2 separate regions of the Homo sapiens genome follow, and region 2 is linked to region 1. Evidence: fine-mapped expression QTL. A gene starts in region 1. The other region holds a variant in brackets. All regions are shown on one strand. Distances are between the middles of the regions. Region 1 holds the start of COPA (coat protein complex I subunit alpha). Region 2 overlaps DCAF8 (DDB1 and CUL4 associated factor 8).

Region 1 (15,814 bases):
AAAAGTATGACAGGCTGGGCACGATGGCTCATACCTGTAATCCCAGCACTTTGGGAGGTCAAGGCAGGGGGATCACCTGAGGTCAGGAGTTTGGGACCGGCCTGGCCAACATGGGGAAACCCTGTCTCTACAAAAATACAAAAAAAAATTAGCCGGATGTGATCCCAGCTACTTGGGAGGCTGCGGCAGCAGGATCACTTGAACCTGGGAGGCGGCGTTTGCAGTGAGTTGAGATCGCTCCACTGCACTCCAGCCTGGGCGACAGAGAGAGGCTCGGTCTCAAAAAAAAAAAAAAAAGTAGGACAGATAGATACCATGACTCCAAGGGAAACAATAATATAGGGCATCAGCTTCTTAGGCTCCTAACTTGATGGCAAACAACGCCCATACATGTGTGGTCTGTACTCACCTGTCAAGCAAACAGACCTTAACTTATTACATGGAAAATACTACATTGCTCAGTAAGCCTGAGCTAAGCAGAGAAACAATATCATATTCAGATGTGAAGTTGAGTCAACTACCAAAGTACTAGGCATCAATGAACACAACTGAAGACATGAAAACCAGGATCATAAATATAAAATAGCTTATCTTCCTCATTCAGAAAATCCCCTAAAATGTACAAAAATAAGAGACCAGATGCATTTTTCTTCTTATTTAATTTTTTTAAATTTCTTTTTAATATTTGTTTATAATCAATCTGGGCCAGCTTGTTACTATTTCTAATTTTTAACTTTTCTTCAGTAAATTATAAAAATTTCATTTCCTATAACAAGTCCAGACAATCCAAAAGTATGATCTTCCAAACAAGAATGCTGAGTTCCTTAAAGGCAGGGTTCTTGTCCATCATGCTCAACACTATACCCTTACCACCTAACACAGTGCCTGACATTAGGTAAGTGCTCAGTAAGCATTATGTATGGAAATAAGAATAACATGAAAAGTTAAGGTATTCCAATACCTTTGCCTCTATCTATTCAATCAGCTACATATAAATACACATGTACACAGTAGAGTTTCACATAAAAATTAGACCATACCATAAACACTATTCTTTAACTGACTTTTTTCCCCTTATAGAGTTCAGTGTTTTAAACTTTCATATTTCTAGTTTCAAAATGTCTTGACTCCTTTAATGGCCTAAGTCAAGCTCCAAAACTGTAAATCCTTAAAAACTTATAGGGGTTTTAGATGAATACTCTGACCATTTGCTGGGCTCCTTGTCTTACTCTTTGTCAACGAGGATTATAACTAATGCTACATTTATCTGGATATAGCAAGCAATAAGATGGTCCACAGACATGACTTTTCTAGATAATCCCCCTTTTTATGGAAAAATGTTCAAGTTTATTAGTCATCAGAGAAATTAATTAAAACCACCGAATGGGCCGGGTGCGGTGGCTCACGCCTGTAATCCCAGCACTTTGGGAGGCCGAGGCAGGAAGACGACCCGAGGTCGGGAGTTCAAGACCAGCCTGACCAACATGGAGAAACCCCATCTCTACTAAAAATACAAAATTAGCCGGGCTTGGTGGCGCATGCCTGTAATTCCAGCTACTCGGGAGGCTGAGGCAGGAGAACCACTTGAACCCGGGAGGTGGAGGCTGCAGTGAGCCGAGATCACGCCACTGCACTCCAGCCTGGGCAACAGAACAAGACTCCATCGCAAAAAACAAACAAACAAACAAACAAACAAACAAAAAACAAACCAAAAAAACCCACCAAATGATAGCACTACACACCTACCAGCTAATAAAGAATTCCTTTGTTTTAATAACAGCTTTATTGAGATACAGTTCAAATACCATACAATTTATTCATATAAAGTATAAAACTCAATGGCTTTTAATATATTCACAGTTGTGCAACCATCCATTTTAGAACATTTTTATTCACTCCCCTAAGAAATTCATACCCATTAGCTGTCACTTCTCATTTCCTCCCAACCCCTCCAACCCTAGACAATCACTAACCTACTTTCTGTCTCTATAGATTTACCTATTCTGGACATTTCATAAGTGGAAGATAATTTCTTTTCCAAAATATTAGTCATTTTGGGAAAACTTTTTCTTAATTAACACCCAGTTTTTCCTTTTTAAACAGATTATAAGAATCCCAAGTTAACCATTCTTGATACTCAATGTTCATCACTATAAATAACAAATACAAAAATACTATAATGAGGTGATATCCTTATGGGCTTTTGAGATCTGTCAGGTGGTTTGAGTTTTGATTGCCCCAGGATGTGGTGCCTAAAAACTAGAAAACAGAAAGAAATGTCCTTCCTATAATTCTAATAGCTCTTTTCTCTGTAGGCAGCTGTCACTCTTTACTCCCATCACCTAAGTTCTGCGGTATAATCACAATATATAACTTCTTGAAGTTGCTTATGAAAAGACTTTACCTTTTTATGAATTAAATTTCACTGGTTCGGTTTGACACATAGACTTAATGAAAACAACTAAAGGAAGTAAACAGAGGAAATTTTGATTTATTTTTATAGGTTGCTAGTCTCTGGCTCTAACTTTTGCTATTATGATAGTCAGTTGTCTTTAAAGAATTGCCTATATTCTGTCTGCTTCCTCATTTCACACTAAGGCCTTCCAAATTAAGCAATTCAAAGGTTATTTCTCAATCTTGATCTTATTCTGAACACTTTCTCCTTCCCAAAATTCTCTTCTTCCTTGGCATCCAAGAGGCTTCTTCTCCCTCTTGGTTCATCTCGAACCCCTCGAATCACTGTTTCCCATACTAACTCTACTTCCTCTCTCTCCCTTAAATGATGGTCTGTCTTCTTATTCAACGTACTCCTTGAGCAATATCTTCTACTGCTTCTCCTTTGGCTCCTCCCTTCATGACGACAAATCACAAATATATTTCTAGCACAGACACCTCAACTAGACTGTCCCTTAGGTCCCTCAAAATCACCAGAGACAAGATGGAATTCATTATCCATTCTCTTCCACTCCAGAAAACTATCTCCTCCTGATTTTCCTTTCCTAGTTAATGACACCCCCTTTACCCAGTGACCTAAACTAGAAGCCTGAAAGTCAGCTCATTTATTTCTCCTTATTGGCCCTTATTTCTCCTTATTGGCCATCTCATTTATTTCTCCTTATTGGCCATCACCCAACAGACACACTGATTCATTTCCTTAAATTCTCACATCCATCTCCTTCTCTCCATTTCAAATGCTACTACCTAAGCTCAGGTTTCCTAACTGGTATTTTTGCCTCCTGTCTTGCCCAAATCATCCAATCTTTTCTTTAATTACCACCAAGTAATCATTTTAAAAACATATAAATCTGGTATCACTCCTGTATTTAAGTTCCTCAAATGGCTCCTAGTTATCTGCATGATAACATCTAAACTCCTGAGCGCCACAAACAGGTACTCCATGATCTGGCCCCTCTCATCTTCTGCCCCTTCTCTCACCATTTCTCCAGGTTTTCTCCATACAAAACCAATAACAGCTGCCCTGTATCTAGCTGTGTCATGCTTTTTGTCTTTGCACCTATACTGCTCTTTCCTATTTCACTGTGAATATCTCTCTATTATATTGCTTACCAAACTGTACATGCTATTACTTGGATATATGTTTATCTTCTGTATTAGAATAAAAGCTCCTTGAAAACAGAAGCCATTTCTTATTTATTTTTGAATTCCCTAAAAAGAAAACAGTGTCTGGTACACAGTAAGCATTCAATAAATGTTTGCTGAGTAAGTTCTCCGGATAATGTTGTCAAAGGCCTGAGCTCTGTATGAATGAAATTTCCTGTCTTTCAGTTCCTTTCATGATTCCCAAACCTTCCCACATCCTCTTTCCTTTATTCTCAGTTATGACAGACCCTCTGTACCTTAATCTTATAGTCATCTCCTCCAGAGACGAACAGTGGCTGCTGCTTATGGAAGTCAATGCCTCGCACTGGACCTGGTGGAGAAGGCAGGCAATGTATGTTAGACAGAGCTATCCTTTCTAATCTCTAAGGTGATTCCTATTCAGGATTTTTCAGTTCTATCATTTCCACATTCTTTAATCATAGAGGAATCCATGTCAAACAAGGCTTAAAATACCCCAGGATATTATAAATACTTATACTCCTTTAACTTCCTCCTAGAAATATCTCACCATCATGTTCATCAAACTTGTCAATGAGAGTGCACATCCGATAGTCCCATAACTGGATGACCCCATTATGTAAACTAGTCAGGATCCAAGGTCTTTTGGGGTGAAAGCTGAGCCCTGAAAAAAATAGAAAATGATACAATGAGCTAACTAAGCCCCATGATGTCACCTTCTGTCAATTCTGATAAGAAAAAGAAACATCAAGGTTAATCCTAGGTTCATTCATTCGACATGCTTGATGATTTTTTACTGGATGCCAGACATCGTGAATTTTATGTTTGGTACTAGATTTTTGTCATATTCCTTTACATATTCTTGGGCTTTGCTCTAGGATACAATTAAGTTACTTGGAATCAGTTGATCCTTTCAAGGCTTGCTTTTAGGTTTTATTACAGAGGGGCTACAGCAGCCTTCATTCTAGGCTTAATCTGGAACCACTATTAAAGCAATAGCCATCTGAGGTCTCTATTTGAAGCCCTGTAATATTAGGAAGTCTTTCCTTTCTGGCAAGTAGGAACACAAACTAGTCCCAGTTCACTAGTGTGAACTCTGGGGATTGCTCTGCCTTCTCCTTTCCAGTGGTCCTTTTTCAGGTTTTGAATAGTTTTCTCACATGCAGATCAGTACTCAAACAAAGACCTGAGAAGACATCCTGCAGATCTCTAGTGCTCTCTCTCTGCAGCCCCCTCTTCTCCGGTATTTTGCCCAACAAAATCTAGCCATCTTTGCTTCCCCACACTCTAAATTTATGTCTCCTCAGAAAGACCAAGGGATTCCCCTCTTCACTGAAGCCTAAAAACTCTCTAGGCAGTAATCTACGACAATCACAGGACTCACCTTGTTTATTTGCCTTCTCTGGAGAATTATTTTCCTGCACTGCCTGTTGCCCAACATCTGTGAGCAATGTATGAACCTTTGTTTCATACATTTTGTTCAGTTGTATAGTTAAGGTGGGAAGGTAAATCTGGCTCTTGTTATTCTATCATGACTGGAAATGGAAGTCCCCAGAGGTAACAACTACTAACAGTTTGAAGTGTATCCTTTCAGATTTTTAATGCAGTTACACATAGACATAGGCTTTAGTATTTTATGAAAGTGGGGATCACGTTATGATGTTGTTCTGCAAACTTCTTCCTCACTTAACTATATAATATGGATCTCATGGAAGTACATATAAACATAACCTCATTCTTTTTAACTACAAGGGACAAATGTACTACACTTATATTATTCTAACAGGCATTTTGTCCGCCAATTTTTGGCTATCAGAAGAGCCTACTGAAGATACTTCTACACATAATCTAGCCTATTTGCATTATTACTGCCCTAGGCTAAAGACCTGTGAGATTGCTCAGGAATAGAATATGTGCACTTAACATTTTAGTACATATAGTTTAAATGTAAAAACACTGTATCAATATACAGTCTCATGAAGTTTATGGAGGTGCCCATTTTGCACACAGGCTGCTATCAGCTATTTGTTGTTTTGTTTTATAAATCTAAGACCCTCCCCCCAAAAAAGTAACTTAACTTTTTTTTTCTTGCATTTCTTTCATTACTAGTGAGGTGGAACTATTTTAATTATTTATTGAACATTTACAATTTTTCTTCTAAATTGTCTATTTTTCCATTAGGTTCTTTTTTTTAATTATGATATATAAGTACACTCAACAATGGATGTTTGCCCTCAAATATTATGACATCTTTGTTTTTCCTTCTGTACTGCCCAGCAAGAAATTAGGAGCAGAAAAGAAAACTGAAAGATTATGAAGACCCATTTCACATTTCACCTATACAGGTCTCAGAAATTCTTAATGGTACCCATCTTTCAAGGTCAAGTTTCCCAAGAGACTTAGAAACTGCTCAGAATATATTCACACATTGATAACAACCTCCAGTTTTTGAGCTACTGAGTCTACACCAGGCGCTGTAATAAATACACTCCATATACTTTCTCATTTTAATACTCTCTATAAAAGACGATTTTACAGATGAGGAAATACAGACTTAGAGACATTAAGTAAGTCATCCAAGTCACAGCTTGTTAGTGGATGTCTCAGGATTCCAAGGCAAGCCCATCTGACTTCAAAGACCAAGTTCCTAACCACTTTGTTACGCTGCATCTCACTAAATATTCTAGATACTATTTTTTCCAGGTCTTCGGAGACCTTACTTCTCTGACTTTCACATTCTAACGTTCTGAGGCTAATACTGCGATCTCAGTATTTGCCCTCCACCCCCAACGACCCACACTCGAGCTCTAGAGCTGCCGTACTTAGCAAATAAAAATACGAGATTTCCAGATAAATTTGAACTTCTGGTAAGCAACGACAGACTAAAAAACTATTCATTGTTTACCTGAAATTCAAATTTAACTGGGTATCCTGCATTTTATCTGGCAACTCTATCAAGTTGAGACTTTATTGGGGTTATAAGCCTCAAGTACTATTTCCGGGTAGTAAATAAAGCCGAATGGAGGCACTGATGTTGAGATGCTGCAGCCAAGGCCTCCTTAAGTGAGGTTGCCACTACTCGTCTCCAAAAAGGCTACTGACTCGGGTGCGAGTAACAGAGATCGAGACTCAGTTCCCAGGGCCACTCCATATAACACAGTCATCAAAAAGCCAACAGATCACAGGGCCTTTGGAGCAGAACAACACAAATCGGGAGCACAGCCAAGAGAGAAAGGGGGAAGAAAGAATAGGGAGGGGGTCTAAGGAATCCCCTGCAGTGTGGGAGCCACTTTATAGGTAAATCGAAGCCCAAGGACACACCAAAGAAGAGGGGACTGGAGAACCGCTAGCCAGGCCCAACCTCTCTCCCACCCTCCGTCTTCCTCCGGGTCCGTCTGGTGGGCCCATTTCGACCAACACCTCTACCCATTTTCTCTTCCCCGGTGTCAGCGCCGCTCCTGACATCCAACCTCCATGTTCCCCCTTTTATTCTCCACTACCTTTGACCCGCGCGCTCTTGGTCTCGAATTTGGTTAACATCTCTCAGGTCTCCGACTCCGATGTCTTAATCCGAGCCCCGACACACCCTGCTGCCCTTCGGACGCCTCCACGTCAGCGACCCTCTCCCGCGGTTTCCGGAAGCGCCTGGAAACACGAACTTCCGGTCTCTTAGGCTCCGGGCCACAGAGACGGTGTCAGTGGTAGCCTAGAGAGGCCGCTAACAGACAGGAGCCGAACGGGGGCTTCCGCTCAGCAGAGAGGCAAGATGGCTACGGCAGGGGGTGGCTCTGGGGCTGACCCGGGAAGTCGGGGTCTCCTTCGCCTTCTGTCTTTCTGCGTCCTACTAGCAGGTGAGGCCTCCCCGCCCGTGAGCTCCGTTCTCTAAGGGGAACTCTCGGATCGGCCCCGCCGCGACCGCCACTGTCTCCCTTCTGGTTCCTGCTGCCCCTCTGTCCCCCCACCCTGTAAATCCTCTTTCTTTTTCGTTCCCACGACAGAAGTTCCCCCTTTGCCTGGACCTGAAGGTCCCTTCTCCCCCGCAGCACGTCGTGTCGCTTCACTCCCTTCTCTAGGCCTCTTCCTGGACTTCGAGCCTGACCCTCTCCCACTTTGTCCAGATGTCTCGTTTTTCCCACAACCCCAGCCACCCACCCCACAGTCGAAAGGAACAGGTGTGAAAGTTAGCTTTCTTCCTCGCGTTTAGACTTTTTGAGACGAAAGCAATCTTGTTCTGTGGGTGCTGTGCGGCGCTTAAAAGGTGGATTTCTTATTTCTTCCTCTGTTGATTACATCCTAAGTCTGTGTCCCCCTGCCTTGCCTCAGGTTTTTTTTTTTTTTTTTTTTTTAATCAGTAAAGCAAGAATAAGGTAGGATATGGGTACTCTTAACTGTGAAGACCCTGAAGTAACAATTCAAGGAACTTTTGGCATTTATAATGTACTTAAGTGTTTGCTGATACGCGTTCATTTACTGATACATGGCTTTTTAGTTGGTCAAGCCCTAAAATGCAAATGCCTGTATATAACTATGACTGTGCCTTCCCCCAATTCACATTGTTTTTAAGGATCCTCAAAGGAGAAACTACAGCTGCCCCACACTGTGGGCACACAAATGACCTGCTGATGTTAAATTAACTGACCCGTGTATGTCATAAGGTTTCTCTCAATTCTGTTCACACTCTTGGAAAAATGCCTCAGAAAGTTTTCTTAGCCCAGCACCTGTGTATTAACCAATTAGTAATATACATACAGGATATACAAGCAGAAGTGTGATCACCTGTGCAACCAGAATCTGGCAAATCTAAGGTCAAACACCTTTCCTTTGACCAAGTTTTCTCTCTTTTAGTGTCACTGTCAATGGCGCTACATGGACTTTGTAATAACCCTTTGAGGCACATAGCTGGGTGCCATGTAGAACATGTATCTGTTACGATAAGTGTGTGCCCAAGAAATCAGAAGAATGGACTTTAATCTCATTTTAGAAAGTATGATATTAAATGATTTACCCAAGCCATACTTCAGGTTAATGACACGATAGAAGCTAGTACCTGTGTCTCTCAAATTTTTCTAACACTTTTTATCTTCCGATCAGGTTTGTGCAGGGGAAACTCAGTGGAGAGGAAGATATATATCCCCTTAAATAAAACAGCTCCCTGTGTTCGCCTGCTCAACGCCACTCATCAGATTGGCTGCCAGTGTGAGTTGAGATGGATTCATGTTTGTGGACATTGATATTTGTCTGTGCCCTAGATACTAAGTAACATCCATGTCCTGCTTAGGAGATTTGACACTTATATTGGACTGTATGTAGGCAGTTACAGATAACCGTCTGTCAAGCTAGGCAAGATAATTAATAAGAACTAACATTTAGTAAATGCTGCATACCAAGCTTTTTACATGTGCATCTCATACAACCCCAACCACAACCCCACAAAATAGGTCTTACTGTTATTGTCACTTTATAAATGATGAAACTAAAACTTAAAGAAGTTGAGTAACTTTCCCAAGATCATACTGGTAATAAGTGATGATGCCAGGATCTGGTGGCCCGAGCACTAAGCTGAGAGACCTTTTTTTTTTGACACGGAGTTTCACTCTTGTCCCCCAGGCTGGAGTGCAATGGCACGATCTCGGCTCACGGTGACCTCTGCCTTCTAGGTTCAAGTGATTCTCCTGCCTCAGCCTCTTGAGTAGCTGGGATTACATGCACCTGCCACCATGCCCAGCTAATTTTTGTATTTTTAGTAGAGATGGTGTTTCACCATGTTGGCCAGGCTGGTCTCGAACTCTTGACCTCAAGTGATCCACCCACCTTGGCCTCCCAAAATGCTGGGATTACAGGCGTGAGCCACCGCACCCAGCCGAGCCAGCACTCTTAACCACCCTATTATACTGTTTTTTAAGGAGAAAAAAGTCTCATATTCTATGGTGTCCAGTTATCACTTGCACTCTGAACTTTTTGGAACCAAAATGGGCTAAAGGCAATGAACTATCTGAAGAGAAGGCACTGAAAATGCCAAATAGGCTGGGCGCAGTGGCACATGCCTGTAATCCCAGCACTTCAGGAGGTCAAGGCGGGTGGATCACTTGAGGTCAGGAGTTTGAGACCAATCTGCCAGCATGGTGAAACCCCCCCATCTCTACTAAAAATACAAAAATTAGCCGGCTGGCTGCTATGGCATGCCTGTAGTCCTAGCTTCTCGGGAGGCGGAAGCAGAAGAATCCCTTGAGCCCAGGAGGCGGAGGTTGCAGTGAGCTGAGATTGTGCCACCATACTCCAGTATAGGTGACAGAGTGAGACACTGTCTGAAAAAAAAAAAAAAAAAAAAAAAGAAAATGCTGAATAATTGCAAGAGGAATTAGTGAAGCATTCTATTTATCCTTTTTTAAAACTTTTTTTCCTTAAATTCAACTGACAGGCCGTTTATTTTCACACTTTGTGTGTTCCAAAAGAAGGTTCCATGACACTGTGGCTTTAAAAACTATCAAAATCATAGGGCAGGAAAAGTAGTAATCTAAAGGCTAACCTGCTGTCTTCAGATTTTGTTTCCCATGGACAATAGCTCTGTCAGAATGTAGTTTTGCAGATAAGCAGGAAACTTGGGGTCTGATACTGGCTTCTTCATCATCAAATTGATCACCTCTGAATTTCAGTTTACCCCTGGAATAATGGTTGGAGTACTTGCATAAAGCTGAAAGTCAAATACCTCTTAATAGTTGTTTATTGATGACGCTAGGTAAATAGGGTGGTCTCAAAAGTGCTGTATAATTTCCTGAAGCCTTCTTCCCATTTGATAAGAGAAAACTGGGACACTGAGAAGTGAAGGACTTGTTCGTGGAAGCAGTTACTACTTTTTTAGCCATCTTTCCCTGAGCTATAGTATCTGTTAATTGTCCCATGTCCCTGCTATACAAAGCACTGGGAGTAGGTTGACTGGTTCCAAACAGCCCCAAATAAAGTTTTTGTTGTACTTAGTTTCTTTTTTTTTTTTTTGAGATGCAGTCTCGCCCTCTCGCCCAGGCTGGAGTGCAATGGCACAATCTCAGCTCACTGCAACTTCCTCCTCCCAGGTTAAAGCAATTCTCCTGTCTCAGCTTCTTGAATAGCTGGGATTACAGGCGCGTGCCACCGTGCCCAGCTAATTTTTTGTATCTTTAGTAGAGGCGGGGCTTCACCATGTTGGCCAGGCTGGTCTCGAACCCCTGACCTCGTGATCTGCCCGCCTTGGCCTCCCAAAGTGCTGGGATTACAGGCATGAGCCACCATGCCCAGCCCTCTGGACTTAGTTTCTGAACTGGTTTGTAGGTAGAAGAGAGCTAGGTCCAGGGTGGGCTGAGATCAGACTGCTGGTCTTGCTGGAACCTCACTATAAAGTACAGAAGGCCAGGACCCCAACCTCTTGTAACTAGGCTCTAAGAAAACTCCTTTGGGAATAAGTCATTCTACTCTATGTTCTTAAAACAGCTCTGTAGGAAGCAAAGCCTCTAGAGGTAAAGCCACGTGCCAGTACAGAGAAACAAGAGGGGGTAAGCGGGACTGTGGCCACTTCCTCATTAAGATCTTGGTTCCTTTTCAACCTACTTATTTCCAAATCTTACTTCGTCATATCTGTCTTTTCTGAGCAGGCTCCGCCCTTTTTAATTAGTGTAGCTAACATGATAAAACTAAGGAGAAAAAAGTGATACCCAGATTTGATTTCTGATTATAATACTCTGCTTCTCTTAGACGCTTTAAAGTTCTCAAAGGGGGCTTTAAATAGGTTTCTTTTCCCTCCCTCCCTCCTTCTATCCTTTCTTCCTTCTTTCGTCTGTCCCCACAGTATGAGATGAATAGAGGTAGAAAACCTCATTGAAGGCGCAGAGAAAATAAGCAAGTTACTTAAGACTACACCATTACTAGTTGGAACCCAGATTAGAATCCAGGTTTTTTTCAGTCCAGTATCATAGTTTGTCTTCCTGTCCTCGCTGGAGTTGAAGTTTTGGGGTGTGTGTGTGTGTGTGTCAGAGTCTCACTATGTCACCCAGGCTGGAGTGCTGTGGCACAATCTCAGCTCACTGCAGCCTCCGCCTCCCAGGTTCAAGCAATTCTCCTGCCTCAGCCTTCTGAGTAGCTAGCATTACAGGTGTGCACCATCACACTTGGCTAATTTTTGTATTTTTAGTAGAGATGGGGTTTCGCCATGTTGGCCAGGCTGGTCTCAAACTCCTGACCTCAAGTGATCCACCCACCCACTTCGGCCTCCCAAAGTACTGGGATTACAGGCATGAGCCACTGTGCCCGGCCGAAGTTATATATGTTTTAGTTGCCACACTATCTGTTCCTTTTCCCATGTTTTAAATGCTGTGGCAAGGGCCGGGCATGGTGGCTCACTCCTGTAACCCTAGCACTTTGGGAGGCTGAGTGGGCATTTAAAGTGATGCTGATATACAGCCAGGGCTGAGAACTACTGGTCTAAAATAATTGATGAATAACATATCCAATTTTCTGTAGGGAGAAGACTCACAGGGAGACCCTAGGATATCTCCACACAGATCACTGGGGACTTAAGGAGTATTACCTAATGCCTTGAATTATGTAGAATTCAAAGTATTCTGGACTCTGGGTCATCCATCCTCTAATACAGTGCTTCCCAATCTTTATCATGTCATGAGACACATAGAAAATGTTATTTGTATAGCATCCTGGCACATAGAGAAATGGGTGATATTTTCAGGGCATCCTGGGGTAAATGATAAGTAGGCTCCTGGCTGGAGGTGACTTTGGAAACCCTAGGTTTCCTGGAATGAGGAGAACCAATGAGAGCACATCTCTGATCCATTCGAGGCTTATCAATTGGGAAGCTCTGTTTTAGAAACCTCAGAGTTCTTGACTAACCTCATCTAAAACCGGCCAGAAGCAAGTAAAGTCATTCCCAAAAAGGGCAAAAGGAATGACGATCCAGGAAAGCTCCTGAGGCCAAGGGCATGTATGCATGTGTTTTTACAAAGGAAGATTCAAAGCTAAAACCCTGAGCTAGAGATTTAGTGGCATTTCCTAGAGAAAATATAGGTTTGAAAACTTTGGTGTCTATTGTTGTAGAATCTTATGTATATGGCTAAATAAGGTTGAGGGCAGAGGGCAAAAAAATGAAGTTCACAGAACCTTTCTGGCATATAATGAGTCCTCTTGTGCTCTTTTATATTCCATTCCCTCCTGATAACCTTCAGATGGAGCTGGGGCAACAGCTTTTCAGTTCAAATCTAGAGGTGCCTGTATTCACCCAAATATGTTGTGACATCTTTAGGGGATAAAAGATACGCAGAATCAGTGAGGCAAAGTCAGAATTGTTAACTATGGGAGCTTTAATTTGACTCATTCTGTCCTGGCAGCTTCAATTAGTGGAGACACAGGGGTTATCCACGTAGTAGAGAAAGAGGAGGACCTACAGTGGGTATTGACTGATGGCCCCAACCCCCCTTACATGGTTCTGCTGGAGAGCAAGCATTTTACCAGGTAAGAACTAGATGTATCTGCTGGGAAAACATCCATAGAGGGAAAGTTTCAGTGAACAGTCCTCACACTTATTAGTGAAAACTTCCCTTGGCTGCCCTGGTCTGGTCAGGGGAGAGGGCAGGGTGGTCCTCAGAAGGAAAGGTGTACCATCAAAAGAAATGATCTTGAGCTTAGGGCTAAATTTCACCTACCTGTCCCTGAGTAACCCTGGGCATCCCTCCCCTCCCTCCCTGGGGTCCTTACTCACTAAAGCTCTACTTTTTAGAGCAGATCATTGTCCAGACTCAGAATTTAGAGACTGAAAGGGAAGAAATAAGTCAACAGTTTGATTCCCCTAGTTCCCCATTTGTTTCCATCCTGCAGGCAGAATGTCAGGCTGTCTGATACCTTCCTGTGTTCCTTCATGGAATTCCTTTCCTATTCCAGGGATTTAATGGAGAAGCTGAAAGGGAGAACCAGCCGAATTGCTGGTCTTGCAGTGTCCTTGACCAAGCCCAGTCCTGCCTCAGGCTTCTCTCCTAGTGTACAGTGCCCAAATGATGGGTTTGGTAAGTGTCCCAAAGGATCAGGAGAGCCTACTGTCACCTAAGGCTCACTGTTGCTTCGGTCTTACGTCTTTGTGAGGGATGTATATGTGTTTGTGTCTGTGTGTAGTGTCAGTAACTGACTCCCAAACAGGGGGTAGTGTTTATTTGTCTTTGCTGCTCATCCCTTCCCTCTCCTGCTTCCCCTTCCTTTGCCTTACCTGGCATTATCTCTTTTTGTCACGTGTTCACATCCCTAATCTTACAGCCTAAGACTCCCTGATACCATTGTCTTTCTATTTTAGTGTGGATGGTAATAGACTTCATGCCTACTTCTTTGAGTCACCACCTCCTTTTGAACTCTTAGTCCCAACTGAAAGATTCTTCTGCCGTCACCTGGTTCCTAAGTACTTGGTGTCCCAGTAACCAGTCCCCCTATTCCCCATCCTTCCCTTCAGGTGTTTACTCCAATTCCTATGGGCCAGAGTTTGCTCACTGCAGAGAAATACAGTGGAATTCGCTGGGCAATGGTTTGGCTTATGAAGACTTTAGTTTCCCCATCTTTCTTCTTGAAGATGAAAATGAAACCAAAGTCATCAAGCAGGTAATGACACTGCCAGCTCCTAGCAATTCCAGTTAGAAAGAAGATTATTTTTCTAGCCAGGTGTGGTGGTGTGTGCACGTAGTCCCAGCCACCCGGGAGGCTGAGACAGGAGGATCACTTGAGGCCGGGAGGCAGAGGTTTCAGTGAGCTGAGATGGCACCATTGCACTCCAGCCTGGGTGACAGAGCAAGGCCCTGTGTCACAAAAAAAAAAAAAAAAAAAGGATTATTTTATAGGCTCTCCTATTTGGAGGGTGGCTCATTCTTCTGGTACACCTGCTGAAAGACGGTTGCTCCAAAAAGAACCAAGACGTTAGTTCTTCTCACATTCTTTCCCCACATTTTGCTCCTACCTGATATTACAGCATTAAAGCCTTTTAGACTAGAAGAAAATATAAAGAATATCTGAAAGAGTAATATGAAACAAGGTACACAGCCCAGGTTAAGAACCACTAGTATCGTTAAAAAAAAAAGCATTGGATTAGAGATTGAGAAATTCAATTTGGTAATTTCTGAGCTTCTTTTTAGCTCTAATATGCCTTAATTCTGGTCTAGTATTTCCATTTTGACTCATAGAGTAGTTAAGAGATTTGTCCAAAGTTGTATGGTGAGTTGATCTCCAAGCTGTGTCATATCTGATTTCCTATCTCTAGTTTGGTGCTCTTTGTATCAGACCACACTGAATCTTTTCAGTGGCTGAAGCTTCAAATTGGGCCAGGCCATCTGGAATGGGATAGTTTCATCTCCAGCTAAACCACTGAGTCTGCAACCCTTTGTAACTCTTGATGAGTTTTTTTCTTTGACCTTATAGATCCTATGGTGGTTCTAGGATAACTATAGCTCAGGGATAAATGTCTCCGAAAAGGGTGTGGCTCCATCCCAAAAGGATGGAACTGGGCCCTCCTCCTTCTGGGATGTAAGGGAGGGCCTCCACAAACTAGCTGTCTCAGTGGGGTCCATCTCCCCTTTCAGTGCTATCAAGATCACAACCTGAGTCAGAATGGCTCAGCACCAACCTTCCCACTATGTGCCATGCAGCTCTTTTCACACATGCATGCTGTCATCAGCACTGCCACCTGCATGCGGCGCAGCTCCATCCAAAGCACCTTCAGCATCAACCCAGGTAGGGCAGATCCGAACCATGAGGGTAATGGAATAAGGGGCAGAGGGAGAGTGGAACCAGGCCAGGGAATGTTAGAGAGACTGTAATAGGGAAGGAGTAGACACCATGAAGGAGCTCTGCATGGGAGAACTAGAAACAATTCTGAAAAATTTAGGCAGCTTGTTCCTAAAGTGGATAGTGGCAGAGAAGCCAACCTCGGACTGTTGGAAGTAGAGAAAACGACTTAGAGTCCGTGGGGCACTGGTCAGAGATTTCCAATGTTGCCTTTATAGCTACCTTCTCCTTTAGCCTTGTTGATCTCTCATTGTTTGTGTCCTGCTTAGAAATCGTCTGTGACCCCCTGTCTGATTACAATGTGTGGAGCATGCTAAAGCCTATAAATACAACTGGGACATTAAAGCCTGACGACAGGGTTGTGGTTGCTGCCACCCGGGTGAGTGTTGGCTTCTGATCAGGATGGGCAGGGCTGGCACAAAAAGAGCTGGTAGGCCCC
Region 2 (15,814 bases), 110 kb before region 1:
AACCCTTTTTGATCAACAGCTTCTTATTTAAAAATAAAAAAAATTGGCCAGGCACAGTGGCTCATGCCTGCAATCCCAGCACTTTGGGAGGCCAAGGCGGGCAGATCACCTGAGGTCAGGAGTTCGAGACTAGCCTGGCTAACACGGTGAGACCTCGGTTCTACTGAAAATACAAAAAATTAGCCAGGCGTGGTGGCGTGCACCTGTAATCCCAGCTACTCGGGAGGCTGAGGCAGGAGAATCGCTTGAACCCGGGAAGCGGAGGTTGCAGTGAGCCAAGATTGTGTCACTGCACTCCAGCATGGGTAATAAGAGTAAAACTCTGTCTAAAAAAAAAAATCTATGGCTACACATTTAAGGACTGTTGGTGACTAGAGGAAACGAATTTTGAAGGCATGGGAATAGGGGAAGAAGAGAGAAACAAGGTTTTGTCCAGGATTCTTGAACAAGGCAAAGTCATCTCATGTATTTTCTAAAAATTTACCCTATTCCCCATGATTCTTATTAATAAAATGAATCTGGAAATATAGCTATAAAATGTGCTCTCATTTCAAAAGGAAGATGATGCTTTTCACTTACCATTAGGAAAGCAAAAAGTCACTCATTTTTCTAGTGATCTTGCCCCTCTCTCTCCTTTCAAACTGATGAGCCCAAAGAAACATAGTTAAAATAGGCCAACTGGATAGGGATGGATACAGCTTATTACTAAGGGTCAGAGGAAATTAACTAATACATATGGAGACTGAATCCACAGTGTCTGTTTTCCTTAGGTCATGTCTCAAGAGCCAGTGTTAACAAAAGGTGTTCACGGTAACAAAGATATCACTATGGATAAAAAAAAGTGGTAGCTCAGGACAGTGAGAGCCAAAAAACCCTCAGTTCACACTAAGTGCTCCCAAGTCAAACTATTTCTGAATTGAAAACCAGTATTTAAAATTTCTAGTGCACGTTTATTTACATACGAAAAAGGTAGATTATTTACTAATATAGTACTTGCTGGTAAACCTAAATTTATGGCTTAGCTGCCACGTGAGGACCTTGGTCAATTCATCTAACTTCTTTTCTTTTCTTTTTTGAGACAGAGTCTCGCTCTGTCATTCAGGCTGGAGTGCAGTGGCACAATCTTGGCTCATTGCAACCTCTGACTCCTGAGCTCAAGTGATCCTCCTGCCTCAGCCTCTTGAGCAGCTGGGACTACACGCATGTACCACCATGCCTGGCTAATTTTTGTATTTTTTTTTTTAGAGACAGAGTTTTGCCATGTTGGCCAGGCTGGTCCCAAACTCCTGTCCTTAGGTGATCCACCCGCCTCACCTCCCAAAGTGTCGAGATTACAGGTGTGAGCCACTACACCTGACCATCATCTAACTTCTTTAAAACTTGATAATCTCTAAAATATGTAAAGTCACCCCTCAGAGACTGTTACATTAGAGAACAGAACATCTCCAAAGGCGTGTAAGATTTTTGGAAAACGGTAAAAAATTCAAGATAATAGTTAATGGATTCCTATAAAATTCGTAACTCTCCATAAAGGAGCACCTGGTAGTATACAATGCATCAGTCTTACAAACTGTCAAAGACACAAAAGAGCCACAAACTCACCTTACAAACTGATCTCGTCCACCCACTGCAAACTGGTGGGTATTGGCAGGATTCACATAGATCGTATACAGCCCCACTTTCTTCTCTTTCTCTTTTGTCACCACCAGTTTCCTTTAAGAGTAGAAAAGCACAGAAAGTTATATACTCCAAAAGATCCAAATGGTCATGGCAAAGGAGAGCCAAGAGAGTCACATGGCTAATAAGAAACCAAAGAGATTCTCATTTGGAAAGAAAGAATTGTTGTGTTTTCTCTGTTTGTTTTGTACGTAACAACAGGAAAAAAGCACATACATTTATTATATGGGACTTTGGGGATTGGGGAAAAAAATATGTAGTGAAGTCACTTTCTAGTGTTCCTTAAGAAGTATAAACTAAAGGTATATGAATGTACCATTCTTTAGGAAGCCTCAGTTTAGCTGCAGTCCAACACAGTAACAGCCAGTTATTAATCAGACAATACTACAGATACCTTCCTACCCTTTATTTATAAATATATCTTCCCTATCACCTGGGAACAAGGAGAGACGTGGAAGAAGAATCCCAGAAACAGTAGGCTAAAAAAGACCTTAAGGTCAGAGACTATTGCTCAGATTCCATTAAAATGTAACTTATGGCCAGGTATGGTGGCTCATGCCTGTAATCCCTACACTTTGGGAGACTGAGGCGGGTGGGTCACTTGAGGCCAGGAATTTGAGACCAGCCTGGCCAACATGGCGAGACCCCATCTCTACTGAAAATACAAAAATTAGCCAGGCGTGGTGGCGCATGCCTATCATCCCAGCTACTCAGGACAATCCCAGCTACTAAGGAGGCTGAGGGAAGAGAATCACTTGAGCCTGGTAGGTAGAGGCTGCAGTGAGCAGAGATCATGCCACGGTACTCCAGCCTGCGCAACAGAGCAAGACTGTCTCAAAAAAAAAAAAGTCACTTAAAACCCAACTTAAGCCAGGCACTGGCTCATGCCTATAATCCCAGCACTTTGGGAGGAACACTTGAGGCTAGGAGCTCAAGATCACCCTGGGCAACATAGCAAGACCCCATCTCTATAAAAAATTATTATAAAAAGCCGGGTGCGGTGGCTCACGCCTGTAATCCCAGCACTTTGGGAAGCCGAGGTGGGTGGATCATGAGGTCAGGAGTTCAAGATCAGCCTGGACAACACGGTGAAACCCCGTCTCTACCAAAAATAAAAAAATTAGCCGGGCGTGCTGGTATGCACCTGTAATCCCAGCTACTTGGGAGGCTGAGGCAGAAGAACTGCTTGAATCCAGAAGGCAGAGGTTCCAGTGGACCAAGATCGTGCCACTGCACTCCAGCCTGGGTGGCAGAGGGAGACTCTGTCTCAAAAAAAAAAAAAAAATTGTTATAAAAAATTAGCCAGTGTGGTGGCATGCACCTATAGTCCCAGCTGCTCAGGAGGCTGAGGTGTGAGGATTCCTTGAGTCCAGAAAGTTGAGGCTGCAGTGAGCCGTGGTCTTGCCACTGTACTTCTGCTTAGGTGACAGAGTGAGACCCTGTCTCAAAAAGTAAAAAAATAAAAAACCCAGCTTAAAATATGCACACTGAAAACTGATAAATTTTTCACTGAAGAAATCCAGAATAATCTGTCTAAAACAGCCATAATTTGTTCCAGGTTAAGGGTGGCATGAGGAATATTCTTCTCAGATCTAAGCATTCAATTAGTCAAATATGACATAATGAAGATTGGTAAATTTACAGCAAAGGAAAGACTTCAAGAAACTATAGGAAGAGGCTTGGCTTTAGTTTTTGTTTTTAAGTCTAAGGTTTTATTTATTTCTGATGCTATGGAAACAGAAAGAAATATAACCATGACAACAAGTTTCTTTGTAAAGAAATGATTTTAGCATCCTTTCTGCATAGCCAAAGTCACTTCAGCCTAGAACTGTTCTAGGCAAAGTGTTGAGATTTTACTTAGTATCTCTGCAGCTTTTCATTAAATGAATACAGAGGACCAGGTGTAGTGGCTCATGCCTATAATCCCAGCACTTTGGGAGACTGAGGTGGGAGGATCGTTTGAATCCAGGAGTTCAAGACCAGCCTAGGCAACATAGTGAGCTCCCATCTCTATTTATTTTAAAATTAAAAACAAACAAAAAAAATACAGAGGGCACTGAAAATGAATGTCATTAGGGGAAACCTCCATCCCCTAATGGTGTCCCCCACACATCTCAAAAACACAAGGCAGGAAACATGTCAAAAGAATAACAGCTTCAGGGACAAAACTAGCTAAGAGACTGCTCTAATATGAGTTTTAGACAGGGAAAGAGAGGAGGAGCTGATGCTGCTCCTTCCCACAGGACCATCTCATTTCCTTAGCAATTTGAAATTTCAGAAGGACAAGGTCAAACAAATACAAAAGTTACCATGTGGAAGCAAAATGAAGAAACTAAGGAATAGATTATGAAGTACTGGCTCCACAGTTATGTAATCCTGCTGAAGAGCTCAATCTTACTATGCCTCAACTTAATCCCATAAAACAAACATTTCTCCCTCCTGATGGGTAAATGCAGAGTACCTTGAACTCTGCAGGGGGCATGCAGAGGTGCTATAAAAATGATTATCATGGCAATAGGAGGAAAAAATGTTCACATTAGAGGAAACATTAAACAAATTCACCAAATTTTGCCTTAAAATTAATGAGCAAGTATGTCCCAGCAAAAAGGGAAAAATAATTACAGATGAGACCAAAGGATTTCTTTGAAGAATACCTCAAACTGGCTTCCACTGGCTAAAGGAATATTCCATCCACAGGTTCAAATCAAACTTTTTTCCTAAGATGTTAGTCAATTTCATTAGCTTTCAGAGACTTGGCTATCATCATATATACAAAAGAAAATCCCCCTTATGCCAACTTCACACAAAAATGCCTCTGACAAGATCATGCCACTGTACTCCAGCCTGAGCAAAAGAGTGAGACTGCACCTCAAAAAAAAAAAAAAATGCCTCTGACATAAGCAGATGTTCAGCTTTTCACCCCATGCCAGCCTGTAACACTACTTTAACCCTTACAACAAAAACTTTAAAGACTCACTGTCTTTATTACTCAAATCTAGATTTGGGCCTCCTTCTACTCTTCATTTTCTCCTTTACCCCTCTTTAGAGTCTATCCCACCTATCATTGCTTATGTTCAGATTCATGGTTAACTCTCAGCCAGACTTTCTGCCTATATAATTTCATTCTAAATTCAATAATCTGCCAAAGTCATTCGCTCTATTCATTACTTGCACCAGATTCAATTCCTGGTGGCCTAACAGTAGTTTCCCTCTGAACCTGATCCACAGGATAAGATCTCACTCTGTTTCACAACTCTTTAACACAGCATATTAAATAAACTTACTATCATTTTTTCCTTTTTTGCTCTTCCCTATGAAAAACTTGCTAATCTTCCATTACCATTACAGAACCCTGGAACTTTAGAACTGGAAATAACAAACATCATGTAGTTCAAAAGATTAAATGATTTCCTCAAAGTCAGATAACTACAAAGCTAGTACTAGAAGGCAGAACCCTTGTCATTTAGGCTTGTTCCATTTCCACTATAAATCTCCCAGTCTTTGTCCTCTTGAAGGTTATATAAACAAGCAACATATCTTTTCCCCAAGCCTAAAACATTTCTATCTTTTAAGCAGTTGTAGAAATTCTTCTACTATCCAAACAGCTTTTTCTGGACTTAGCTCTCCAAAAATAAGTCTAGTAATAATCAGCCTTCATGTTATATTCCCCAATATAAATTAATTTATATTTTACTTATGTCCTATGTAAATCATTGCCATCCCTTACTCAATACTGGTACTGACCTATAAGATCTGTTATAATAATTTTGGTTTTTTTTTTTGAGACAGTCTTGCTGTGTCACCCAGGCTGGAGTACAGTGGCATGATCTCAGCTCACTGCAACCTCCACCTCCTGGGCTCAAGCGATTCTCCTGTCTCAGCCTCCTGAGTAGCTGGGATTATAGGCATGTGCCACCACACACGGCTAATTTTTGTATTTTCAGTAGAGACGAGGTTTCACCATGTTAGCCAGGCTGGTCTCGAACTCCTGACCTCAAGTGATCCACAAAGTGCTGGGGTTACAGGCATGAGCCACTGCACCTGACCAAGATTTGTTATAATAATCTTTAAGACAAACAAGACAATAAACGATCTAGATATCTATCAATAAGGTAAAGGTTAAATAAACTGTGGTACACCAATGCTATGACATTTCTCTCATGGTTAACAACAAGGTAGCTTTTATGGTCCAACACAGAAAAATCTCCCACATTGTAACATGAAATAAGCAAACTGCAGAAACATACATATATGTTTATATATACATACAAGTATACTTATGGGGAGAAAGGAGAAAGTGTATATATGTATTTAGGTACAAAATGTATACAAAAGGGACTAAAAAGGTGTTCAAAATTACTTACAATGATTTTTTTTTTTTTTCTGAGATGGAGTTTTGCTCCGTCACTCAGGATGGAGTGCAGTGGCATGATCTCAGCTCACTGCAACCTCCACCTCCCAGGTTCAAGCGATTCTCCTGCCTCAGCCTCCTGAGTAGCTAGGGTTACAGGCACATGCCAACATGTCCAGCTAATTTTTGTATTTTTAGTAGAGGTGAGGTTTTGCCATGTTGGCTAGGCTGGTCTCAAACTCCTGACCTCAAGTGATCCACCTGCCTTGGCCTCCCAAAGTGCTGGGATTACAGGCGTGAGCCACCGTGCCCTGCCCACAATGGTTTTCAACAGCTAAAAAAATGGTGGGGCGGGGGTGACTGAGGGAGCATTTACATTTTGTCTGTATACTTTATTACTTGAATCTCTTAAACAAGAAGTATTTGTTTATTGTAAGAGCAATAAAAATGAAAAAAGAAACTAAAATAATTATAATTATAAGCTAAAACTTAATCAATTTCAGCCATGGTGTTAAACATTATGCTGAGGCATCACACACAAACACACACACACATACATACACGTACGTATATATATACATACATATATACGTGTGTGTATATAAATACATATGTGTGTATATGTGTGTACATATGTGTGTATATAAACATATATGTGTGTGTATATATGTGTACATGTGTATATGTGTGTGTATATATGTGTGTGTGTATGTGTGTGTGTGTGT[A/G]TATATATATATATCCTCACAGAAACTACTAGAGAGGGAAGGACGGAGGGAGGGAAAAAAATATGCCCATAGCAAGGCTGAAGAAAATGAGGTTCAGAAGGTTATGTAAGTCATAACTAGTAGTGCCTGATTTGAGATTTGACCTAGGTCTGCCTGGATCCAAACAAGATGTTGTGTTTTTTCTATGATACCACACAGTTAAAAAGGAATAAAATTTACCTATGAGTCTCAGATTCACATACAAATGAACTGTGATAAAACAGAACTCAACTACAGCTACCAGTATTTTTGTTCAAATTTTATGTTTGTATGTTTCTATAAATAACTAAATTAAAAATGTATTTAAATTTAAAATTTACAGGACTGTACCTCTACATGAGTCTGTGGAAGAATGTGCTTTCTGTGGGTAAGATGAATGATATCCAAGTGAATAAAGAGCAAAAGATCATCAAATTATTAAAGGCCACATATAACAAGTAAACTGTTTGAGAAATGAAGGTAGACTGAATAGTATTTCACTACTGAGAAAGAGAGGAAGTAAGGAATTCCCCTTAACCTTAAACTACCTCTTAACCATAGGCACAAAGGTACTATTCGGATGAACCAGAGTTAGGCATTACCAAGACATATGGAATATGTTCAAGGCTAAGAGATACAGTTCTGTAATGATATTACTGCTACACTTACGACGCTGGGCGGTCTTGTCTCAGGTCAATGGTGAAAACAACTGCATCTTCACCTGCAGATAAGAACGTACAGGGAGAGTCTGGTTCCAGTGCCAACTGAAGAAGAAAAAGGAAAAACATGAGGTTTCTAAATATTAGAATTAGAGGTCATCTAGTTCATTCCTATAACTTTGGGAAGGGCTGCACTTAAAATGTTCCAAAAAGAGAAATGTCTACCTTTTTGTCATAAAATCCCAGGAAAGGACATAATCTAAGCCCACTTACTCTTGTTCTATGCGAATTATTTATAGTTTTGTTTATTCTATAACTAGTCAAAGGACAGTTGATTTGCTATTTCAACTAAGTCCTCAAGAGATATGAACAGATAGCAAAGAAAAACATCAGCCATTAGAGTTCATTTTCTTTTTTTTCCAGTCAGGGTCTCACTTTACCACCCAGGCTGAAGTGCAGTGGCATGATCATGGCTCACTAAAGCCTCAACCTTGTGGGCTTAAGTGATCCTCCCACCTCAGCTGCCCAAGTAGCTGGGACTAGAGGCACAAGGCACTATACCTGGCTAATTTTTTCGCTTTTTTTTTGTTTGTTTTCCACAGATGGGGTCTTGCTATATTGCCCAGGCTGGTCTTTAACTGCTGGCCTCAAGCAGTCCTCCCACCTCAGCCTCCCAAAGTATTGGGATTACAGGCATAAGCCACCACACCCAGCAACAGTTCATTCTCGAATAAAATCAATTCCATACCCTTAAGTGCAGAGAGAAATGGTGTCCAACTTCATTCCTTACATCTTAGTTCCTTACAACTGAAAATCAGTTAACTAGTGGGTTAGGAGTAGACTTAAGAATCAAAGAAATAGGTAATTTTCACATATCCTGGGCCGCCTTGGCTAGAAAAGGATACTCCAGGTCCACCTATATTTTTGCTTAGGGTTTCTAAGAGAGTACCAACCTCTTTTCATGGCACAAAAGACCAACACCATGCCTACCTTAAAACTGGCAGCTCTTAACTCCTTGTTAGCTGCCACCATGGATTATTTGGCCTATATTCCCAGCTTTAAATAGGGCTTCCAGAAACAGTGCTATTTGTGAACTGAGAGTTTGAGCAGGTAAGCTGAAGCTCTCACACAAGAGGAATAAACCACTAGCACCTTGAAACTGTCAAAATACCCTAAAAAATCACAATAAATGTAAAAGGTTTAGAGGGCACAGGAGACCTCAAAGATCTCCAAACCAACTAGGGCTTAGCTTAGGGGCCAAATACTATGAATGCATGATCTAGGGACTTTTCAGATACTTGCCTTCCTAGGAGTTTAGGGTGGCTGCTTTTGCTCCTTTCTTAACCACAAATCTTAGGACTGAAAGAGGTGAGGCACATGACCACAACAAATGTGACACAATGGGCAGAGATAAGGGAGAACCTTGGCTGAGAACCACAGAGGATTTGGATTGCACAAATTTTGGAGCAAGGTCTTACTTACCTTGTGGGACGCTCCCTTGTGCTGGGCCACACGTTTTGTATTCTTGCAACACTGTGTGGCAGACAGTTCTGCTACTCGAACCTGCCCGTCACGGGCACACATGGCCAGAGTAGAATCACCACTGTTAGGAAGAAACTTGGCCTGGGGTGTTAAAAATGAAAAAAAGGACACACAAAAGAAATGAGAGAGGTAAACTTGAGAATAAAAAATACGATGATGACCTCAACTTACCCCCTTTTCTTACATGACAGCTGGAAACTTAGCTTTCCTACTCTTGTACAGCTGGCTAAGCCCAATTTCTTCCAGGAGTTAAAGGAAAGGGAGAGAAAAAACTTCCTTTGATGTAAGAGAGCATTTCAGTTGGCTCTGGAAGATTGAACTGGCACATGATAAGAGCTCAGATGAACTAGGACTGTATCTAGCAGAGGAGAAAAGGAATAGAGGAGGAAAAATCTACTTTGATTAAGAAAGTAAATATAAATTTGCTACAAAGAAAAAGGAAAATAGGGGGAATGTCAGGGAAGAAAAGAGAACACCCTTAGGATAAATGGCTGGTACCAGTACAGTAGATGGGGCCAAGGAGTAAAATCTTTCCAGAATAACAACAGTATAAGCTAACATTTATCAAATGTTTATTAAGTACCAGTCACAGTTCTAACTGCTTAGCTTCTATTGTTACTTAATCCTCATAACCCTATGTGTTATTAGTCCCATTTTACAGATAAACTGAAGACAAAGGTAAAATAACTTGGCCAAGATCACTGAGCTAGTAAGCAGAAGGGCTAGGATTTGAACTCAGGCAGTTTGGTTCAAGAGCCTGTGCTTATACTACACTGCCTCCTACCAGCACACATTTAATAAGCTGCATGCACCCTACCTATGAGGCTTCCAACAGTCCACATGCTCAAGGAATCTAGGGTTGCCAAGAGTCTTTCAGTGTATTTAGGTCATTAGGGGAGCCAAAGTAGGGCCATGTCCCGATATGTAATTCCTACAATAACTCACTATCAGCTCCCAATCCATGCTGCAGTTCAGATTTCTCTAACTCATGCCTGATTCTCTCAGTTGCTATTATGCTCCCTTGCCTCACCTGGAACACATTACTTTTGTGGCCACTCTCAAAGTCCAGTACTGGCTGCCGCCGTACCCAATCCCACACCACCACCTTCAGGTCATCGCTGCCACTGGCCAGCCAGGTGCCGCGCTGGTTAAAGTGCAGGGTATTGACACAACCAGTATGGCCCTCAAGCCCATGCTGCAGGCGGAAACGCTGCACAAAGACTCTTGCCCCACAGGCCTCATAGACAAAGCGGGCACTTGAACCCAGCTCCCGCTCCCGAAGGGCAGGGAGGGCTTGCCAGCGAGGTCGGGGTAGAGCTGATGTTTCTGAGGACACCCAGTCCTCTAGGGCCCGCTCATCATCTGATGAGTCCTGGTCACGGTTAGCCCGCTTGCGCTGTACACGGCGCCGAGGCTGCTCTTCTTCCTCCTCTTCTTCCTCCTCTTCCTCTTCCTCTGAGCGGTCATGGACTCGATTTTCATCATTAATGGAGTAATGACCAGTGTCCTCCATGCTGTCAGAGTCCTTATCTTCACCTGAGCTCTCTGTGTCTGTGCCTCGACTTTCTGTGCTGGTGCGGTTGGGGCCACCATCATCCCCAGTCAAGCTCAAACTCAGGTCTGAGGCCTCCACTTCAATGCCTGAGGATGTCTCCCTCCCCTCTTCAGCTCCAGACATCTCCTCTGGACTGCTAGACAGGCTTCCTGCATGTTAGTGAGGAAGGAGTAGAGGAGAGGGAAAAATAAGAAAACAGGATAGTGACCACCTTAGTCTAAGAAATCTTCACATCAAAAGACCAAAAAATGAACTTTGGTCCAAGTGTTTTCATTACAAATAATTACAGAGAGTACCCTCTGAGGGGAAATCTTGTAAAGGACAAGAAATTGAAAAGATTAAGATCAAATCCACACACATAAAATACTTCAACAAAAGCAAAGAATCTCAGGACAATCTAAGATTATATTAAGTTCTCAAGAGGCAAAACATTGGCATATTGTATAAAAGTGTGCCTGATACATCTACCATTGGCTCTGTTGTATTGGATGGGCATTTATTAAGTTATAGCAAATAATTAAACAGAATATAAAAAGAAGAGCCAACTCCAGCAAGAGCTAGCATAGCCATCTTCTTAGCGAAAGACGGAAACCAGCTGATAAAAATCACTCTTGACTTATGGATGTGGTGTTGCACCATTTCCTACTTTAAGAAAGTATCAGGCCAGGCACGGTGGCTCACGCCTGTAATCCCAGCACTTTGGGAGGCCGAGGCACGTGGATCACGAGGTTAGGAGATCGAGACCATCCTGGCTAACATGGTGAAACCCCGTCTCTACTAAAAATACAAAAAATTAGCCGGGCGCCTGTAGTCCCAGCTACTCAGGAGGATGAGGCAGTAGAATGGCATGAACCCAGGAGGCAGAGCTTGCAGTGAGCCAAAGTCGCACCACTGCACTCTAGCCTGGGCGACAAAGCGAGACTCCATCTCAAAAAAAAGAAAGTACCACTACACCTTCTGTCACCTAAATCCTAAGCTTCTTCCCCACCTAAGTTTCTAAAATTCACTAAGAAAGCAAGCTGAAGGGGTAAGTGGGAATTGTGATCATTTGAGTGGGTTCTTGCTCACCTTTTGCTAGTAAATATATTTTGACTTACTTCCATTAGTTTGAATTTTTTAATATAATTCTTAGTCACACATTTTTAGTCTCTCTATTGAGACAGTTTTATTAGGAAGCATATATAAAATTGATAAAAAGCTGGGCTACTATAGTGGTGCCTAAGACGAAAGTTCAGTATATTCTAGGTCTGCTATGCTGATAGTTAAATAACTAGGTCACTTTTATCGATCTTATCTCCTATAACTACATACTGCATTCTCTTAACTCACAACAGTCAAGTCAATTCCAATGAGAACTTGAGGAATGTTCTAAAGCCAATACAACCACAACTTCCAACCTAAGTCAAGGTGTGAAGAAAAAAGGGGAGAATAAAGATTTTAAATGCTGCTCATGGGCCTCCTTTCCTCAGATGGCTATAAATTTTATCCGCCAGAAGTAAAAGCTGTCAGGAAAGGCAGACCATCCAGTATGAGCTATTCAACTCCAATACCACACTGATGTTTAAGGATTCAAAGGTGGAGCACCTTATTGCCTAGTCATGTGGATTAGAGCAGTAATTTGTGAAGAGCTCTGAAGCAATGTACTCTTAAGCAAAACCCAATACTGAAAAAAGATCAACAATACAAGTGCTTTGATTCAAGCAGTAACAGAAGCCCAGAAGACATAAACAGTTCTTGCAGGCTGGGCGCGGTGGCTAACACCTGTAATCCCAGCGCTTTGGGAGGCCAAGGCGGGTGGATCACCTAAGGTCAGGAGTTCAAGACCAGCCCGGCTAACATGGTGAAACCCCCATTTCTACTAGAAATACAAAAAATTAGCCGGGCGTGGTGGCATGTGCCTGTAATCCCAGCTACTTGGGAGGCTGAGGCAGAAGAATCGCTTGAACCTGGGAGGTGGAGGCTGCAGTGAGCCGAGATTGTGCCACCGTACTCCAGCTTGGTAACAAGAGCAAAACTCTGTCTCAAAAAAAAAAAAAAAAGCCTCAACTAAGAGCACAGTATAAAACAACTGGGCTAGGGGCTGGAAGAAAAAGTTATGAAGTACAGAAATTTGAACCCAAGGACCACATTTGCTGAGCCTGTTATATATGCTACGAAAGTTTAGCAGTTACAGTTTTTTGAAATGCAGCTGGGCTTGAGCTTGGGAGTGGTGAGCAGGGACTGAAACACCAACCTAACAGGTCTGTAGAAAAGAAAAAATAAAACACCAAAACATCTAGTGTTTATTGTTAAAATTATGAGTAACAAATATAGACAATTTTGGAGGCCTTACCACATTAACATAAGGGCCAGAGGGTATCACAAGCTCATCAAGAAGTCCCCAACAGTAAATCACCAAGATCTAGAGTAGGGGTTTGCAAATTTTTTCTGTAAAGGGCCAGATAGTAAAAACCTTAGGCTTTGCAGACCATACGGAGCTCCACCACAACTACTCAACTCCAGTATGTAGAACAAAAGCAACTCATAGACACTACATAAACGAACAGGCATGACTGTATTCCAATAAAACTTTACAAAAACAAGTGGCAGGCTGGATTTGGCCTGCAATTTATAGTTTGCCAATCCTTGACCTAGCTAATGGTCAAGCTCCAAATCAATAGTATACTTTAACTCCTCTAGAACCCTGTGCCTTTCAACTAAACCCAGTGAAAAATATGAACCACTTTCCTTTACAAAAGATGAATGAATGGCAGTGATAAGAACATATGGAGCAATAAAAAAGCATGTTGAAAATCTCACTTATCCTTCCTCCAATCACATCAACTAGAATTTAGCCTGTTATCCTGACCTTCAAGGTGCTAAGGAATGCTGGACTCTGTGCTGCCCAACTATATCCATTTAAAGGCGGCTTCTCTAATTTAAAAGTTGGCTCAGAGGTGAAGAGCTGGTTAAATAACCCAGGTGGTAGTTATACTCTATTAGAATTTTTATATTCTGCCTTCAAATCTGCCCTAAAGCCAGTGATTTGACACTTGGCAGCACTGGTCCTGAAAAGAAGGAGGAGGGAAAGGAAGGAAGGAAGGAAATAAATGGAAAGAAGGGAGGGGAAGTAAGGAAAGGAAATAAGGAGGGGAAAGATGTCCCACTCCTAGTTGGGTTGTAACTTCATCCCTTATGTAATCACCTTTTTTTTTTTTTTTTTTAAAAAGACGGGGTCTCGCTATGTTGCCCAGGCTGGTCTCAAGCTCCTGGGCTCAAGCGATCTGCCTGTCTCAGCCTCCCAAAGTGCTGAGATTATAGGCATGAGCCACCATGCCCAGCCATGTAATCTCTCTATCAAACTACTACTTACTGTGGAAAGGGACCTCTCAATATAACTGGGAAGCTCATCTTCCCTAAAATTCCCTTGTTCCTACTAGCCATTAGATTTTATTTTTCTCCTTTACTAACAGCATTTCCTAGGTTCTGCCCATCCTTATAGCTTTATAGAACTCCAAACCACTTGACCTCTTAGAAGTACAGCTCTGTTATTGATATTTTGAAAATGATCAGATAAAATCAGAAGAAGCAAAAGCATAATATAGTCCAAGGTGTTTCCTGTGTAGTTTCCTAAACTCAGAACAACACAGGAAAGTTTCCCTCTCTCCACTAAAATCCAGGCCTCCACTCTATCTTGCAGGGAGGAGGACAACCTCAGTTGATAGTAAAAATAGCTTCACCTTCATTTTGGCCCCTTACCATTAGCTAAGTCTGTTCTGCCATCTGTGCTGCTCCCTTTGCTGGACATCTTGAATGATGTTTGCTGTAGCCAGCCTGGGTTTGGGAGAGGAAGAAACCAAAACAATTAGGAAACCACCTGGGAAAGAAGACAATAGGGACAAGGAGATTTAACAATGTACAGGTTTTATCATTTTTATAAAAATGATTTGTGTATGCATGCTTAACAGGTCTTCTCAGCTTGTGAAATTTTTTCTTCCTTATGTTTTCTTCCCTATGTTTAAAATCCATATAATGATATATTTTTGGGGAGGTCAAGTGCCATCTCTTTACTTCACTCACTGAGTAACTGGCAGTGATTTTTCAGATGCGAAAGTGGGAACTAAAATAAAACCTGGAACAGGAGGCACATATCAAATGACAGGTACTGCAAGCCAAGAGTCTCAACTCAATACATAAAGCTAACTTCAGCATTGCCCCCTAGGCAAGAATCTTCCAATGTAAATAAGTGACATATGTATCCTCAAACTCTGTACAACACTTGTTTTCACAACATAAAGAGGTGGGTCAGATTCTGAGTATCATTTTACACACAAATCAACAGAAATCAACCTCTTGGGGGAAGAGATTGAGCTTTCTGTTCACTCAGATGACTAACTTCAAACCTATTATTATTATTCTTTCTTTTTTTTTTTTTGAGACAGAGTCTCATTCTGTCGCCCAGGCTGGAATGCAGTGGCGCTATCTAGGCTCACTGCAAGCTCTGCCTCCCGGGTTCACACCATTCTCCTGCCTCAGCCTCCCAAGTAGCTGGGACTACAGGCGCCTGCCACCATGCCCACCTTTCTGTATTTTTAGTAGAGATGGGGTTTCACTGTGTTAGCCAGGATGGTCTCGATCTCCCGAGTGATCCGCCCGCCTCGGCCTCCCAAAGTGCTGGGATTACAGGCATGAGCCACCACGCCCAGCCCAACTAACTTCAAACTTATTAAAGGCACAGATACTAAGGATTATAGAGCTGAAACTAGAAATCAGGAGCACCCTATCCCTAGGAAAGAAGCTTAAGTTGTTTTGTTTCCCTTAGGACTAACAGTCAGAGTCTCTAAGCACAAAGACAAAGGTGGGGAAGAAAAAGGCAACATTTCCATTAAACCATCTCATCCCATTTCATATAATGGCAAACACTGTTTCACCTAACAGCACCAGCTTTCACCAGACTCATCTTTCCTTAACAAGGAATCAGGGTATCTAACTCACTTCCTTTTATGCCACTATAAAACATTCATATTTTTTTCAGAGCCTCACTGCCACCTCCAGTAAATTCCAAAGAGCAAAGAATAATATTATTCAGACCAGAATTTTATTAAGCCCTTTCAGTGACTTGGACAAAAGGCACTAGTAAAAGACAAAGTATAATTATGACCCCAGTCCTTGTACCCAGGCACACTGGCCTCTAATCTTTCAACAGCCCTTTCATTCCCATGACAATTATTCCAGAAGCAGCCTCATCCTTATCTTTTCCTCCGCTACCCTCTATAGAAATCTAAGCTGCTTCATTAAAAGTATCCTC

Evidence for each region. PIP is the estimated chance that this variant, and not a neighbour inherited with it, causes the effect.
Region 2: its variant is fine-mapped to the expression of COPA in whole blood (TOPMed, PIP above 0.99).

What each region holds. Positions count from the first base shown.
Region 1 is chr1:160,336,052-160,351,865 of GRCh38, forward strand. It overlaps COPA (coat protein complex I subunit alpha), which reads right to left and starts at 7,199. Exons shown (of 33, transcript NM_004371.4): 1 at 7,080-7,199; 2 at 4,130-4,243; 3 at 3,858-3,931. The coding sequence starts at 7,119. NCSTN (nicastrin) reads left to right here and starts at 7,332. Exons shown (of 17, transcript NM_015331.3): 1 at 7,332-7,430; 2 at 8,671-8,775; 3 at 12,948-13,071; 4 at 13,498-13,619; 5 at 14,054-14,199; 6 at 15,171-15,321; 7 at 15,645-15,754. The coding sequence starts at 7,346. RefSeq lists enhancers at 7,132-8,079, 7,352-7,401, 10,767-10,816.
Region 2 is chr1:160,229,695-160,245,508 of GRCh38, forward strand. DCAF8 (DDB1 and CUL4 associated factor 8) reads right to left here. Exons shown (of 14, transcript NM_015726.4): 3 at 14,266-14,340; 4 at 10,003-10,676; 5 at 8,913-9,053; 6 at 7,441-7,535; 7 at 1,603-1,713. The coding sequence starts at 14,314. Among named protein-coding and RNA genes, the nearest start is that of DCAF8-DT, 24 kb to the right of the region's middle. The variant A/G (reference allele first, on the strand shown) is at 6,754.